Linked DNA regions of Homo sapiens: region 1 is reported to be linked to region 2. Evidence: microRNA targets listed by miRTarBase, many of them from high-throughput screens and not tested one by one. Region 2 holds a microRNA gene; the other region holds the end of a gene's coding sequence.
Evidence for each region. The annotated mature microRNA hsa-miR-500a-3p reads AUGCACCUGGGCAAGGAUUCUG and lies in region 2 at 3,622-3,643, opposite strand. An mRNA with a match to its seed (bases 2 to 7 or 8) in the 3' UTR can be bound and repressed. Matches are read on the target gene's strand: a 7mer-m8 pairs with bases 2 to 8, a 7mer-A1 pairs with bases 2 to 7 and ends in A, and an 8mer does both.

Region 1 (5,068 bases), not on the chromosome of region 2:
CCACAATCTCCTCCCTTGCCTCCCCCTCCCCACCTCCCACCTACCCACCCCCGCCAGCCCCACTGCACTGCTGAAGCCTTCCTCCAGCCACTGCTCCCTCCTCACACAGGACAGCTACACCCTGGTGCCCACAAATGAAGTCCAGACAGCTTAGTCCCATAGACAGAGCCCTCTGCACCCTGACCGCAACCAACCGTCCTCCCATCCCTGGAACCCACAGCTCTGCCAGTCTGCTGGCCAAACAGCCCCATTCTGCCCTCATCTCCAGGCCTCGTTCCAGCATCCCCCAGGCTGGAATGTCCTCATCCCAACAGAAGTCTACTCTCCTTCAGGGCCCAGCTGAAATCCCTCTCCCACAGGCACCTGCCTTGATGCCTCAGGCTCTAGGCGCAGGGACTGCGGCCAGGCTGGGGCACCTGCCCTTCTTCCCCCTGCCCTGGCTTCCCCTCCTGGGTGGGGAGCTCTGTGTAGTGGTCCCCTCCACCCCTCCATTCTGCCCTGCGGCAGGTGTGTGTGCACTCATTAACACCCTGCCCCACACTGGACTGCGGGCTCCTTGAGGGCAGACACATTGTCTCAGAGACCTCTGCCCACCCACCCACTCAGGGTCTCACCCCTTCCACAAACAGCCCTTAAACTAATGTTTGACAAACACAGAGATCCCCAAAGAGCCCCAGAGAGGATGGCAGTGGTCAGTCCTGCAGGACACAGCAGCATCTAGAAGGGTCTGAGCACCTTCCCAGGCTGGGGGCCTTCTCCTTCCCGGGTCCTCACAGCTCAGCCAGACCCCCTGGCACGGACCTGCACACACATGCACACTCCCGCACTCATACCCGCTCACATCTGAGATACCGATGGCTCTCCCTCTCCCAGGCTAGGAAACTCTGTCGCAGGAGTCCTCCCCACCCACCAGCAGAACCCCCGGACCCCCTGCCCTTCCGGTGAGCCGCCCCTCCTTTGCCGTCGGGTTTCCCTCCCTCCCTTTTGCCCAGCCAAAACCCGAACCCAGGCGCCAGGGGAGAGGACCGCCGTTCTAGCTTGCCCCACTGCTGGGGGCACGGAGTTCTTGCTCCTCCAAGGCTACGGCCCCCGTCTCCGCGGACCCCGCCCGGACTCCCCCTGGCCACCGGGACGCCCCGCCCCCTCCCCTCCGCAGCAATCTCTTACACTCGGGCTGTGAAGTTCGGGGTATTTTTAGGCCGGCGATAAATAATTCATAGGGAACGTGGCATCAGGCTCCCCCCGCGGGAGGAGGGGGCGCGAGCAGCGAGAGCCACCGTCACCCGCGGCTCAAGGACACTCGCGATGCGGCGGCGGCGGCGGCGGCGGCGGCTCCGGGCGGGGACCCGCGCCACGCCTCCTGGCGGCCAAGCTGAGCACCACGCACCCGGCGCCCCCCGCCCCACGCTGCCCCCCGCCGGCGTCCGCGGCTCCGGGGCCCCCACCCCCACTCCCCCAAGCTGGGTCGTGACCCCGAGTCCCGCAGTGGGGGGACCAAGCCAGCCTGGCAGGCGGCCCCAGTACCATCCCAGGCCCGCCCGGGGGCCCTGGGCGAACCCAGGTGTCCCGGACCTGCCTACCTGCCCCTGGCACGCTCTTATTCTTCGGGAGTTTAGAAACAGGCTCAAAGTCACTAGCACCGCCAAGACCTGGACGGGCTCTGAAATACAGCCAGCGGAATGGTACCCTCCCCAAATAAGTGTCTTTCCTCGATTTTCCTGTGGCCCGGGGTCAGGGACTGAACTAAGATAACGCCACCATCCGAGGGCTGGGGGACCGAGCCAGAAGTCCCCTTGGACGACCAGGGCTGGGAAACCGAGTGGACGAATGGGGTGGGCATCAGGGCCTGGCGGGAATTCCCGTCTTGCTCACCCAGCAGCTCCTTGCAGGGTCGCGGGACGCACCTGGGGGTTCAGGTTGCCGGGTGCCTTTGCTCCGCGTGTCCCCGCCCTGCCCGCGTAGGCAGGAAACAGGAGACTCGGGGCTTCCCCTCCCCGCCGTCGGGGATCCTGGGCGAAGCCCCCAGAGACCGGCGCAGGCGGCTGGTGCGCAGCCAGGGCCCAGCGCCAGGTCTTGCTCGCCCAGTGCCCTCTCTGCCTACCCTTCCCTTTGCGCTCTGGAAGCCCGGGAGCCGGGCACGGGCCAGCATCTGCAAGATGCCACTACTCTGGAAGCCCACTCCGATTCTCCCAGGTCGCAGGAAGGAGAGAGCTAGGCTGGGGCAAAGGAGATGGGGCAGAGCTGGAAGGGGAAGAAGCGGGACTCGCGGCGGGGGAAGGGGTCTGGGCGCCGAGGCGAGTGCGCAGCAGGTGCCCAGCAGACCTAGGGAAACTGGGGCACTGGGCTGGGGAGCCGCACAGCCCCCTTTCACCTTCTCGACTCCTTTCCAACCCCTCGCTCTGGTGGATCCCAGCCCCGGCCCCCACTCCCGGCCCTGTTCCCCGCTCTCCGCCCCGGCGGCTTCCAGCAGCAACAGTTTGGGTCCGCGGCAGCCCAGACTCCCCTGGTCCCGCGGTGCTGCCGCGCCAAGCGAAGGAGGAGGAGGGCTCGGCGACCCTGGGGACGAACGTCTTGGACGCTTCGCCCGCGTCCTTCTCTCGCGTCCGCCGCGCGCCTGTCTGCTCGGCCTCTTCTTCGCCTTCTCTCCGGCCGCCCGGGTCAAAACCCAAGGCCAGGTTCTTGAGGGTCCGGGTCCTCCAGCCGCCCCCTCCTTGAGCCCCGAGAGTCCTGCGTGGGTCCAACCCCCCGGGTGTCCCGCCTCTGTCTCCGCCGTCCTTGCTCGCGCGCCGCGGGAACCCAGCCCCAAGTTGGCGGCGAAGTTGGTGCCCCTCGCCCGCCGCTCGCCACTTACCGAGGGGAAGGGGCGCTGCGCCCGCGACGAGAGCCCGCGCCGGCCGCCTCCCTCGCGGTGTCTGTCCCAGAGCCTCGGCCCCGGAGGGCTGGCGCGCTCAGTCTCAGCTCCGCGGGCGCCGGAGCCCGGGCGCGGCGGGGCGGGGGCGGGGGCGGGTGGCGCGGCCTGGTCCGCTGGCCCCGACCCGCCCCTGCGCCCCGCGACCCTCCCGAAGCTCGCACGGCGCCCGGCTCCGTCCCGGGCTGGGCTGCGCACCGCGCCTCCTGCTCCCAGAGCTCGCAGCCGACTGTGCGGGAGCTCTCACCGCCGCCCGCGAGGGCCCGCCCCGCCGGGGCCCGCCACCTCCGCCCCGGCCCGGCCCGGCCCGCTGCCCCTCGAGGCCCCTCCCGCCGCATTCCCGGGCCCCTCTCCCCTCTCCGGAACCGCGTCCCCAGACCTGACACTCGGGGCAAGTGCGCCTCGGAGGACACACCAGCCTGCCCGGAGCCTGGGTTTGAGCCCGCAGCTCACGAGTGTGTGACCTTGGGCCAATTTCGAGGACCCCTCAGGTTATACAGCGAGGCAGCATCTTGAGGGCTGCCATAAAAGGGAGTGACCACTCTCTGGACACTGCAAAGCCCTAGGGAGACTGAGGCACTATTTTTAAAGGCCAGTGTGTCTGACTGGAAACGGAAGCAGGAAGGCTTTGAGAGCCAAAGAATGGGCCCCAGGCTAGACTCGCCTGGGGCACCCAGAGGTACAGGGGACAAGCTGCTTCTCAGTCCCCCGCTCCCATTTCTTTTCTGTTTTGATTGTACTGAGGGCTCCCCAGGGAGGGGTGGTCCCGGTCCCGGTCCCGGGCAGCCCTAGTGTGGACAGAAGACAGGCAACCCGCAGCCACAGCAGGGCCGAGCGGAGAAAGGAAGGGTGGCTATGCCAGGCCTGGCTGCCGAGCCCCATCAAGCCCCCAATGAGGCCCCTGAGCAGGGAGCCGTCTCTGCAGCGCCACCTGGTGATGGTAGGGGAGCTACGGCCAGAAGGTGACCCCCGACCCCAACCCTTCCAAAAAAAGTCCCCCATCAACCATGGCTCTTGGTTGCAGCTGTTTTATTTCCAGCATGTTCCCAACCTGGTGACCCTCCACAGTCCAGCAGTAGAGAGATGGGTAAGGGGTTAGATCGGCCCACACCTCCACCTGTCCCTAAGGTTACCTCAGTTGCTGAAAGCTAAAACCTTGCGCGCAAGGGCGACCTTCCCCAGGAGGGAGGAGAGACGCTGGAAGAGCAGCCAAGCCTCCAAGCCAGGGCCGGCCGGGATCAGCAGAGGTGCAAAGTCCCACTCAGACGGACCCAGCCCTTCCCCTCCCAACACTCATCCCTTCCCTGCTGGGGGCCGGGGCTGGGGCTGGGCTCAGTGGCCCAGGAGGCGCAGCATCTCCTGAGGATCCACCAGCTTCTCCCTGGGCTTCCCCGTGCCCTGGCCCCGGGCCACCTCCTCGGCATCCAGCTTCTCCCAGTCTGAGAAAGAGACTGGCCGGACCCCTGAAGCAGAGGGGAGATTGTCAACACCTCCTCCTTCACCCCTCCCAGAACAGCCCCCTCCCAAAGAGTGAGGCCCAGAGAAGGACCACCCACCCCACCTCCCAGGACCTCAGCATCGGGGCCCAGACCTCGGCTGCTGAGCAGGGCCTGGATGGCTGCGTAGCCAGGCCTGGGGCCAGAGGGGAGCAACCCAGCCTTCAGGTCCTGCAGCAGCATCTGGCCGGTGAGGAAGCTGTCAGTCATGGTTGTGGCTATGACACCTGTAGGTCCTCTCTTCACCCAGCCGCTGCAGTAGAGGCCTGAGAGGGGGTAACAAAAGGGGAAGGGAGGGAGGTGGCTGGATACCACCCTGGCCATCCTGTGCCCACAATCTACACCCACGTGCACGCACACAGACACCCCACGCCTCTTGGCAGACTGTCGGCTGAGCCTGCTGTGGCCGCTGGTCCACTGCCCTGGATTCTTCTCTCCCTGTTTTTACCAGGCCGACCCCCTTACACCTCAGTTTCCCTGTAGATGAGGGGATCCCTAAGCTTAGGAGCTGAGGCTTGCTCCCCTGCAGTTTCAGTAGGCCCTTGGTAAATGTTTACCAAGTGAATTAATCACTAGATAGGTATGTGGGCACTTAGTAAAACTGGAAGCTCCCTGAGGACACAGGCTGCCTTATTAATCTCCAATCCCAGCACTAAGCACAGGG
Region 2 (5,070 bases):
ACGGAAGTTCCTTCTCTTAAACATGCTCACTAGGCATGTGAGTATGAGTTCTGTGTCTTTCTTGACCACCCTGTCTCTCCATGTCTGGTGCATGACAGGAGCGCCACCCCTGCTTGTTAAAGGTGGGAATGAATGAAGGATGGGGATTATAAACAGGTGTTCTTCGCTCTATGCAGAAAAGGCTCAGCCGTGGAATGCTTGCCTGGGTGCACCGCATTGACACAGCACTTGCATCCAGGTACCAGGATTCAAGAGGGGGAACAGGACTGAAGGCCCAAGCAGCCATACAGAGTATGTGTGTGTGCACGTGTGCGTGTGTGCACATGTGCTCACATGGGTTTACAGGGAAGGCTCACCGCATATAGTGTGTTCATCTGTGACTGTACAGAAAAGTAATGAAAGGATCTCTCCTATACAGAGCAGCAAGAAGGAAAGTAGCAGTAAGAAGACTTCCCTCATTTAATCCCCATCTATAAGGGAGTTAAGGAAGCTCACTGGCTTGCACGCTGAGAATGGGAGAGAGGAGAGCACAACAGGCTCCATCTCCTACCCTTTCAGTAGGTGGGGTTCTCTGCATGCAGGGCCATGTCTCTGAGTGTGTCTGGTGTACAAGGATTGGGGACATTTGAGAATTTCACTTGAGCAGAACCTGCACATGCTTGTGCATGCAGACTGGGTAACAAGGAACATATAGATCTACTTCATTCTTTTGAACAGTGGCCTATTCATCCACAACATTTATGTATAGTGTGTTTATGAGTCCCTACCAGAATGTAGGGTAGCAACCTGTCCATTTTGATCCCTGCTATATCCTTGGTGATGAACATAATACCTGCTGTCTAATAGACACTTGAGTATCTGTGGAAGGAAGAGGAGGGAGAGTTGATGTGCAAAAGCTCTGTCCTTTTAAGTGTAGACAAGGCTTCTTCCCTTGGAATTCTTGAAAAGGGACAGTGAGTCAAGGCAGTACTGGCACACAGGCTGAAAGAATGTGAGTGATGCACCAGGTCAGAGGGACCACTCTGTGAGGACATGTCTCTGTGGATGTAACCAAGTCAGGCCCTTTCTCTTGCACACAGCGTATTTATGTGTGATTGTACTGAGGTTTAGTAGATTCTCCAACATGTATCTGTACCCCACCCACCCTGTACCCCACCCACCCTCAGGACATGCAGATATAATGAATGAGAAGGAGTCCATTCTCCTCCCTGAACTGTACACTCCATGAAGGTAGGGAACCAGATATGGCTCATTCTCTTGTGGGCCAACTGCCCAGGACAGCACCTGCAATAGAGTAGGTAGGTACTCAACAAATAGTCATAGAAAGGATGGAAGGAGGAGGTAGAAGTGCTCTGTCCTATGCGAAGATGTCACTCCCCCTTGCAGAATCCTTGCCTGGGTGCACTGCATTCAGAAAGCACTCTCACCCAGGTAGCAAGGATTAGAGAGGGGGAACCAGGACAGGAGATTCCAGTACCTGTACACCTCACATGTGCATCTAACAAGAAGGCTTGCTGTTCTTGCCTAGTGCATTAACCTTGCATTGAACTAAAGTAGAGAGAAGTTGCTTCGACAAGTATCAGGCTGGGTGCAGTGGCTCACACCTATAATCCCAACACTTTGGGAGGCTAAGGCTGGTGGACTGCTTGAGCCTAGGAGTTTGAGACCAGCTTGGGCAACATAGTGAGACCCCATCTCTACAAAAAATAAACACAAATTAGCCAGGCATGGTGGCACAAGCCTGTGGTCCCAGCTATTTGAGAGGCTGAGGTGGGAGGATCGCTTGAGCCCAGGTGGTTGAGGCTGCAGTGAACTGTGATGGTGCCAGTGCACTCCAGCCTGAGCAACAGAGCAATACTCCATCAAAAAAGAAAGAAAAGAAAAGAGAGAAGAAAAGAAAGGAAAGGAAAGGAAGGAAAGAAAGAAAAGAAAGAGAAAGAAAAAGAAAAGAAGGAAGGAAGGAAAGAAGGAAAAAACAAGAAACAAGTATCAATGTGACAGCAGGAATGAGAAGACTCACACTTATGGGTGGGTTAAGGTGGGAAGAGGGTAGATAAGAAGTTCCTATGTGGCCCACTCACCCTCAGTATATGCAGGGGCAATGAGTGGTGACAAAGTCCATTCTCCTCTCAGGCTATAATATCCAGGAAGGCAGGGGCGAAGTCTGCCTTGTTCATTTCTCTGTGTCCAATGCCCATCATGGTGCCCAATACATATTATTTGTGGAAGGAAAGAATGAATGAGGGTCAGAGAGCAGGCAGGCAAGCAGCAAGCAGCTGAGAGGTGACATACAGATCTTCTGTTCTCCACGCAGAGGGGGCTCACCCTCTCAGAATCCTTGCCCGGGTGCATTGCATTCAGAAAGCACTCTCACCCAGGGACAAAGGATTAGAGAGGAAGAGCAGAGCAGAAGACTCAGGCACCTGCACCCTGCATGTATATCTCCATATATATTTGACTTTCATGGTCCCATTCCTGCAAAGTATCTCTGTGTGCATTTGCTAAGACAGATGCCTCTCCTCAGGGATAGCATATGTATTCATCCCCCTGCACAAGGCCACATGGACATGCCCTCTCAGACAAAACCTCAGACTAGAATGAAAGATATGAGTGGCATCTTTTTCAGATCACACTTGAGGGTCTGCAGGTGCTGGATGTATTTGGGGCCTAGCAAGGAGGTTGGGACAAACTGTATGTGGGCACACATGTACATGCACATGTTGGAAGATGGTACAGAAAATTGGGATACTTCATTCTCTTCTGTTTCTCTGGTAAACTATAAGCTCACTGAGAGCAAAGACTGGCTGTGCAAGTCTCATCACCCAATGTGTGTTTCCCCATTACAGTATCTGACACATAGTAAGCTGGGAGTAAACAGAAAGCTCATGCTCTCAAAGAGGTGTAAGCTTGTCCAGGGCAATGATGAAGTTCATTCTCCCACAGGTGCCCTCTACAGAGCCCAGGGACCTTAGCTGTCTTATTTACCGTTGTATCTCCACCACCCAGTGCAGGATCTGGCACCGCATAGCAAACACAAACATGTGAAAGAAGGGGACAGGTTGTTGGTCCTTCTACATGTAGACAAGGCTCAGCCTCTTTGAATCCTTGAATAGGTGTGTTGCACTGAAATAGCACTCACACCTAGGTTCCAAGGATTCAAGAGGGGGAGCAGACAAGAAGGCTCTGACACCTGCCCTTTTTGTGTGTTTGTATGTGTGCATGTGTAGCTATAACCAAGTCTCACTCTCATGTATATACAGTGTCATTTACTAGGGACTTTACAGAAAGGCAGAGAATCTTTTCTCCTGCAGAGTTCCATGTGAGATCAGAGAAGATTCATGCTTTTGTGTATGTTTGTGGGTGACAGTGGTAATGAGAAGTCCACTCTGTGGCCCACCCACTCTCAGGGCATGTAGGTGTAATGGATGATGAGGAATTCCATTCTTCTTCCTCAACTGTAGCTCCATGAGGGTAGGGACCAAGCATGTCTTGTTAGCAACTGTATGCTCATTACTCAACTTAGTATCATATACAGAAAAGGTGGTCAATAAATACTTGTGGAATGGATGATAGGAGGACAGAAAGACGCTCTGTCCTACACGAAGATGAAGCTCTCGCTCTCAGAATCCTTGCCCAGGTGCATTGCATTCAGACAGCACTCTCACCCAGGTAGCAAGGATTAGAGAGGGGGAGCAGAACACAAAGCCCTGTGAATGTTCAGTGAGAGGGCTCATTCTTCTTCACACAAGGTACTTACTTGTCATGATATAGAAGTAAAGAGAACAGTTCTTGAGCTTTGCATTAAAGATGTCTAGTTAAACACACATTTTGTCTGTTCTCTCAGATAGTAACAACAAAAAAGTATAAACCTATAAAGAGACTGGGAGGAGAGAGGAGTGTGAAAGGGAGGAAAGAGAGAATGAATATAACGCCAAAGCTCATGATCCCGCAAATGCTTTGTGTGACTATGCAACAAGAAGGCAGTACAGTTTAGCACAGTTGTTCTCTAACATGCACCAGAATCATCTGAAGACCTGGGTAATATACAGGTTACAGAGGTTTCTGACTTGGTGAGTCTGGGGTGAGACCCAAGAATTTGCATTTCTAACAAGTTCTCAGGTGATACTGATGCTACTGGTCCAGGGACTACACTGGGAGAATCACTAATGTAGTGGAAAAACCAGGCACTTTGGTATCTACGAACCTTGGTTCAAATGCACGCTCTACCACATATTAGCCTAGAGAATCGACCTGATTTTCCCAAGGTCAAGTTAAACACTTTTGAAGAATGAGGACAATTTAAAGCCTACCTCTTAAATGGTGTCAAGAAAATGAAATAAAGTATAGTACCTGGCACACAGCCGTCAATATTTTTACCTCTTACTCTCTATTTTTATGTATATATGTGTTTGAATGAATGTGCATTTTTAAGGGGGATGGTGAAACTCCTGCATGCAAGGGACAGGTGAGAGAGAAGAGGTCCGAGTATCTGTGAGTGTGAGTGCCTGCACAAGGGGATACACAGATTCATCCTCTTAAATTCCTCACGTGTGAGTTGATGAGGTTCTCCTTCAATCTCCCTAGGTCAACAAAGTTCACGCCCCTTCACATAAGGGATATGAAGGAAAACATCAGAAGTTCCACTCTCTCTGTGTGTGTGTGTGTGTGTGTGTGTGTGTGTGTGACAGAGAGAGAGAGAGAGAGAGAGAGAGAGAGAGAGAGAGAGAAAGAGAGAGAGAGAGAGACAGAAAATGAGTAAAGATGGGGGCATCTGGCCCTGTGAGTATAATCAAAAAGGCTCCTGTCTCTCCTGTCCCTGTATGCTCACATGTCTGCATATGCTGGGCACCCAGCCACATGTGGGCCTCCCTTGCATGCTCATTCTCCTGTATGCCTTGCTTGTGCACATGTGCATATACGAGTATTTGTGTATCTGTGATTGTGAGAGAGAACATTAACAAGGAAGTGCATCTTCATTCAACAGCTACCTAAGGGAAGAATGCCGAGACAGCTCACTGCCCTTTCTGGGAGGGCAAAGAGAGTAGAGTTAGGGCAGGAAGGAACCACCCA

Region 1: miRTarBase lists FDXR as a target of hsa-miR-500a-3p. The part of its 3' UTR that is shown has no 7-base or 8-base seed match.

What each region holds. Positions count from the first base shown.
Region 1 is chr17:74,858,577-74,863,644 of GRCh38, forward strand. It overlaps FDXR (ferredoxin reductase), which reads right to left. Exons shown (of 12, transcript NM_024417.5): 11 at 4,500-4,670; 12 at 3,921-4,371. The coding sequence ends at 4,241. GRIN2C (glutamate ionotropic receptor NMDA type subunit 2C) reads right to left here and starts at 1,309. Exons shown (of 13, transcript NM_000835.6): 1 at 1,168-1,309. RefSeq lists an enhancer at 2,136-2,834.
Region 2 is chrX:50,007,055-50,012,124 of GRCh38, reverse strand. MIR500A (microRNA 500a) reads right to left here and starts at 3,694; the gene lies at 3,611-3,694. The region is part of intron 3 of CLCN5 (chloride voltage-gated channel 5); the gene reads right to left. It overlaps MIR362 (microRNA 362), which reads right to left and starts at 3,161; the gene lies at 3,097-3,161. MIR501 (microRNA 501) reads right to left here and starts at 2,403; the gene lies at 2,320-2,403. It also overlaps MIR500B.